2 separate regions of the Homo sapiens genome follow, and region 2 is linked to region 1. Evidence: fine-mapped expression QTL. A gene starts in region 1. The other region holds a variant in brackets. All regions are shown on one strand. Distances are between the middles of the regions. Region 1 holds the start of VPS37B (VPS37B subunit of ESCRT-I). Region 2 holds the start of LOC124903039 (a long non-coding RNA gene).

The links.
Region 2: its variant is fine-mapped to the expression of VPS37B in whole blood (INTERVAL, PIP above 0.99).

The regions. Positions count from the first base shown.
Region 1 is chr12:122,894,745-122,897,612 of GRCh38, reverse strand. VPS37B (VPS37B subunit of ESCRT-I) reads left to right here and starts at 1,489. Exons shown (of 4, transcript NM_024667.3): 1 at 1,489-1,661. The coding sequence starts at 1,551. RefSeq lists a silencer at 1,346-1,495 and an enhancer at 1,676-1,825.
Region 2 is chr12:122,863,525-122,866,431 of GRCh38, reverse strand. It overlaps VPS37B (VPS37B subunit of ESCRT-I), which reads left to right. Exons shown (of 4, transcript NM_024667.3): 4 at 1-1,102. It overlaps LOC124903039 (a long non-coding RNA gene), which reads right to left and starts at 2,296. Exons shown (of 2, transcript XR_007063500.1): 1 at 1,850-2,296; 2 at 1,075-1,432. The variant A/G (reference allele first, on the strand shown) is at 1,569.

The sequences.
Region 1 (2,868 bases):
GTGAGCTGAGATCGCACCACTGCACTCCAGCCTGGACGACAGAGCAAGACTCTGTCTCAAAAAATAAAAAAAGCAATAGTTCCTCTAACTTTCATCATTTTTCTGCAAACACGAGCCCTTAGTACAACGGGCTGGAAGGAGAGAAGAGGTTGGCAGAGCCCAGCCTAACGTATGGATGGAGAACACAGACCTTATGTTTTACCCATGGAGTTGCAGAAGAATCAGCTTTATACACAAAGCCCCTAAGTCTGCCGATAAGCATTTGCTGAATGCCTCGACTGTGTTCAGAGCTGAGTTATGAGACGAGGTCAGTGTGTTATGATGCCAGCGTGGTGGACGCCAGACTGGGAGCCAGGAGACCTGCCAATTACTTGATTTTCAGAAACAAAGCAAAAGCCCAAAAAATTTCCCCTTCTCAGGGCTTCAGTTCCCTTATGTGTAAAATTAGGGGGCTGTCATGGTTAACCTCAGCCTTAGGTTTCTTCTAACTAGAACTGTGACAGATTCCAAAGTAGGATAATGAGTTCCCAGGCTCCTGGATCTTAAGAGGCTTCCCGGTAGCTGAGAGACTGAGAGCGACTGCACCCTAAATCGTGTTGTTTCTGAAAGAGCACAGGTTGGCCCACCTGGATGTCTGGGCACCTTCCTCTGAGGTGATGCAAAGGGGCCACTCAATGGGTCCTTGCTCAAAATGCTCCAGCCTTACTGGCCTTCTTCCCATTCCTGAATGCACCAAGTTAGTCCTGTCCCAGGGCCTTTGCACGTGCTGGTTTTGCTGCCTTGAGCTTCCTACAGGAATGGTGGCTGGTTCCTCCCTTCTCATCCTTCACATTTCCTTAGACGCCACCTTCTCCGAAAGTGCCATCTCTTACTACCCTAAAGGTCTTTTTATTTTCTTATTTCAGTGTCCATTCCCTTATTTGTGATCGCCTAATTATTTTACTTATTTCTTGTTTTGTTTGCGTCCTCTTTCATTCTGTTAGCTCCATGTAAGCAGGGGTCCGTTTTGCTTTATTCAGAACTGTATACTCAATGCCCAGTACAGAGTAGGTCTCAAAACATATTTGTTAAATGAATGACGTGGCAGCTCCACAATTCCAAGTAACCAATGACACCTAAAGTTGTTTCCCCATGAAGTCTCTGTCTTTTGGGTTCCGTGCATCGGGCTGGGCTCACAGGCTGCGGGAACTTCCTTCCCACTGCCTGTTTTCCTTGGATCGCGGTATCTCTCTTCCTGGAGGAAAAAGGCTCTTATGACCTCATGGCGCGCTCTCCCGAGCCGCAGTGACGTCATTAATGCGCTCACGCGTCACAGCCCAATCATAGGGCCCTTCCCCTCCCTTTAGAAGTCCCGACTGTCCCTGACACATTCCACTCCAAGCGAGCCGCGACACTTACGTCACGTCCGCCCGCCCGCGCGGTGATGACGTCACGACCCAGGGCTGGCGTCACGTGTCCCCCCCGCGGGGGGCGGCCCTTGAGGGCGGCGCTTCCGGTCGGCGGAGCCTGGTGGCCGCAGCGGCGGTGGCGACGACGGCCGAGACGTGGGGATGGCGGGCGCCGGGAGCGAAGCCCGGTTCGCCGGGCTGTCGCTGGTGCAGCTCAACGAGCTGCTGGAGGACGAGGGCCAGCTGACGGAGATGGTGCAGAAGATGGAGGAGGTGAGCCGAGCTGGGCTTAAGGCGGCGGCTGTGAGGCCTCGAGCGGGGTTCGCTCCTCGAACGGTGGCCGGAGGCGGAGGCGACCGCGGCGCCTCCGGTCGTGTTGAGGGGACTGGGCTAGAAATGGGGGCGCTTGGGGCGGGGTGCGGGAGCCAGGGAACCGCGACTGGTGCTTAGGCAGGAATAGGGGGCCTGAGAGGGGGTTTGAGGCACTGAGGGGACCGAGACTAGGGCGGAGGCGGGAAAAAGGGTCCTGAGACGGGGCTTGGGGAGCCGATTGGGGGTCCTGAGACAAGGTTTTGTGGGGCTGAGGACTTAAGGCTGGGTCTGAAGACTTAAGGCTGGGTCTGAAGTGGAGATTAGGGAGCCTGGAATGGGAATTTGGGGATTAGAGTGCTATCGTTGGGTCTAGGCGGAAGAGGACGGAACTGGGGGGATCTGAGATTGGTTTGGTCGGAGGAGCGGGGAGAGTAATAAGGGCTGAGTCGGAGGCGAGGATTAGGGGTGACTGAGGGGGACCAAGAGCTAGATCTGGTAGAGGTTGGGGGGTTTCCTTTGAGAGGAAAGGTTGGGGACAACCAGGGGGACTGAGGCAGCTATAGGGGATCAGAGTAGGTTTTGGGGGACTGAGTGGACTATCCAAATAGGACTCTTAGGAGAGGATTGAGGGTTCCAAGATGGGTTCGGGAGGCTGAGGGTCTGTAGCTGAGTCTATGAGGTGGTTCTGAGGCTCTTTAAGGGTTGGGCGAGGGTCCCCAGCCCAGGGTTTGGAGGCAGGAGTCCATGGTCATACCATAGCCAGGGTAAGGTTTGAAGGTTCCATGTATCTAAGGGGTCCCAATAATGCCCCTGGAGTCTGACTTCTTTTGAAGTGGCCCCAGCAGAGTTACGGGAGTTCGTGGATGGGCCTAAGGGTGGCGACAGGATACGTTTTTCTGTAAGGGTTGCCCCCTCCACCGAGGAAGGGAAGGTGGGAAATTTAGTGTGGCTGGCTTTGTACCACTGCGTCCCACGTGTCTGGGACTAAGGAAGGTTCCTGGAGCAGTTTCAGGAAGAAGTTAAAATGGGGGTTTGGGGCTGGCTGCCAACCCTCACCTCTGAGAGTCAAGCCTTGCCCAGCCCCTGGAAGGCATGTGCCAGCTCCTGTTTCTGGTTATCTTCCTTCACACCTTGAGGTGTGGTTTGCTCTCGGGTAACTGACTTCATC
Region 2 (2,907 bases), 31 kb after region 1:
TCCTCTCCCGCCTGCCTGGAGCCGGCCCTGAAGGTTTCTATGAAGAAATAATCCCCCAATATTTTTACTACGTGTGTGATTTTCCTGTTTTATATTGAAAAAACTTTTTTGACACTCCCAAGACCATTCAGGGAAATTTTATAAAAAATGCAGATACTGTCTTGAGCAGATCGAAATGCCGATGAAGTGGATGCAATTTCCTTTTGTGCAAGCAGTGCACGGTGCCCCCCCCTCGGGTGTCCGTGCTGTGCCTTAGCTTCCCCAGGTGCCGGGACTCACACCTGCTAGGGGCTGGGCAAGGCCCCGGCTCTGCTTTCTCTGAAGGGCTTGTCCAAGTTCATTGCCCTGTTACAGGTGGTCAAGACGTCCGGCCGCCTTGACCCAGGCTACCCTTAGCCAATATCCTCTGCCCCTGGGTGGCTGGTGGCTGGGCCTCAGGGTGGGCAACGTTAGGGGTTTGGCGAAAGCCCGCCCCATGGGATTGAGGGACGGGGCTGCACTCCAACCGTCTGCACCTGCTCTTCCCCCACCCCTGTGGGACCTCATCTTCACGTGCCATGTGTGCTGAAGGCCCAGGGCCCAGCAGGGGGCAGTGGCACCTGTTGACGGAAAAGGCCGAGGTGCTTACCAGTGGACCTTCTGGCCCGCCCCTCCCCTGTCACTTGTCGGGCATCCAGGGCCCCGACCTGTGCCTAGCCGCCAGGGTGACAGAAGGCAGAACTGAAGCGGGGTCTGGGCCACGGGCCAGGCCACTGCCTTTTGTCCTCAGTGACCGTACATTCCTGCTCTCGGACTTGAACTCTACTGTAACTGTTTTCTTAAAGGAAATGAAGCTGTACAGGACGATTCACTGCCATGCCAGTCAGGCGGGCTTGCCATGTTCTGTGAATCTCGAGTGAGCGGTGCCACCCGCCCCCATACCTCCGCCACCGGCCGCTGTCGGGGATGCCACAGCCTGCCACGGTCGCAGCCAGACGTGAGCTTGGCATTGAAGTTGCAAAGCGGCCCCTGGCCGGGCTCGCCGTCGCTGTCCAGGGCCGTGTCCGGTGCTGTGGCTGTAAAGCTGTAGGACCCTTTTTAATAAATAGAGAATTATTAATAACAGGCCTGTCACTTATTTACTTGGGGATGTGGATGTTCATGATGTCTGGTTCTGAAACATCAGTGATCAAAGTTCCAGCAGGGAAGCTGGCTGGGACGTCTGTTTTTGAAGCTGAAGACAAAATCTCTGCCTGTCCAGGGCCCCTGGCACAGGTGGGGCCTCTTACCCTCTTGGTCACCAGTCTCATAAACAGCAGTCACGTACAGGGCATGTTCTGTGTCTTAAGAGGGTGTCTTCAGGATCACAGCCACTGTGTCCAAGTAGGGGACTGAGGGTGACCTCAGGGCTCAGACTGTGCCTGCTCTCTGTCCGTGAGGTTGCCGCCGTGTGCTGTGTGAATGGTGGTACTTGTTAGGATTTTCTGTGTTGGTTTTTAGTGGGAAAACCAGTGGCTCTGATGTTTTGCTTTGGGGACTTGCCAGCAGGTGTTTCAAGAAGGCAGTTGCCTCTGCCCATTTCAAAGCCC[A/G]GTGGGTGCTGTTTCCTTCTCTAGGCCGAGAGGAGGGGACCCTGCAAACCCTGCCTCCTTGCAGAGCTACAGAACTGCCCTGTGCCCGCCGCCCCGGCTGAGCCGTGCGCCTGCAGCTATGTATGTCCGCCGCCCCAGCTGAGCCGTGCGCCTGCAGCTAGGTATGCCCGTCGCCCCGGCTGAGCCGTGTGCCTGCGTCCTCACCACCCCAGCTAAGCTGTGTATCTGGGTCACAATGCCCCTGCAAGGGACTTGAGGAACTGAGATGAGAGCAAGCTCACCTGTTGCTGTCTCCTGTAATAGCTGCCATTCCTGGCACATCATTGTTCTATGAGAATGTACAGGAGAAATTTCTGTGGTTTTTCTGTGAGGAAGAGGGAAGGATTTCCTGAGAAGCCAGTTAGCCTTAAAGAAAAAGTGTGTGATAGTTTCTTTCTTCCCAGTGGCTGCCAGGAAGCTTATAGCCAAATCTGTTGTCCACTCCAGTGAGGATGCTGGACTTCACAGAGTCTTGTGGCTCATGAACCTTGCCTTGTGGGAGCCTCTCCTCCTGCTGTGTGTCCCATTCACAAGGAGGACCAGGGAGAGGCAGTGACAGGTCCAAGAGGGTGGGGGAGCAGGACCAGACCCCAAGCTCCTGCTTTCTAGCCCCACACTTGAGGCAGCCTGTTCAATTAAAGGTTTCGGCCAGGCACAGTGGCCTGGAATCCCAGCACTTTGGGAGGCTGAGGTGGGGGGGGGGGGGGGGGGGGGGCGGATCACTTGAGATCAGGAGTTCGAGACCAGCCTGGCCAACATGGCAAAGCCCCCATCTCTACTAAAAATACAAAAATTAGCCAGGCATGGTGGTGCATGCCTGTAATCCCAGCTGCTCGGGAGGCTGAGGCAGAATTTCTTGAACCCGGGAGGAGGTTGTAGTGAGCCAAGGCACGCCACTGTATTGCCACCTAGGTGACAGCAAGACTCCATCTCAAAAAAAAGTTTGGTCATTGAGGACTCAAGAATGATCAGTTAAGCGTTGTCAATGCCTGTGGATTTTCATTTGTATCTGGTGGAGAATCAGTTCCGTTAGTGTTTCTGAAGCCATCTTGCCTTGTAAACAAACAAGAGCCAGGCACAGGGTCTGTCTTAGCCCTTGTGGTCAGTTTGCAAGGCCCTTTCACCCTAACCACCCGGCACAAGCACCCCGGCTACGCAGCCTTAGCTGAGGCCCCACTTCATCCTCCAGGAGACGTGAGCACAGGTGGAAGGCTTGTCTGAGGCCATACAGGAGCCAGCCAAGGGGCCTTTTCTCTCCCCTGACCCACCCTGTCCTGTTTCTCTATAAATGCCAGTGATC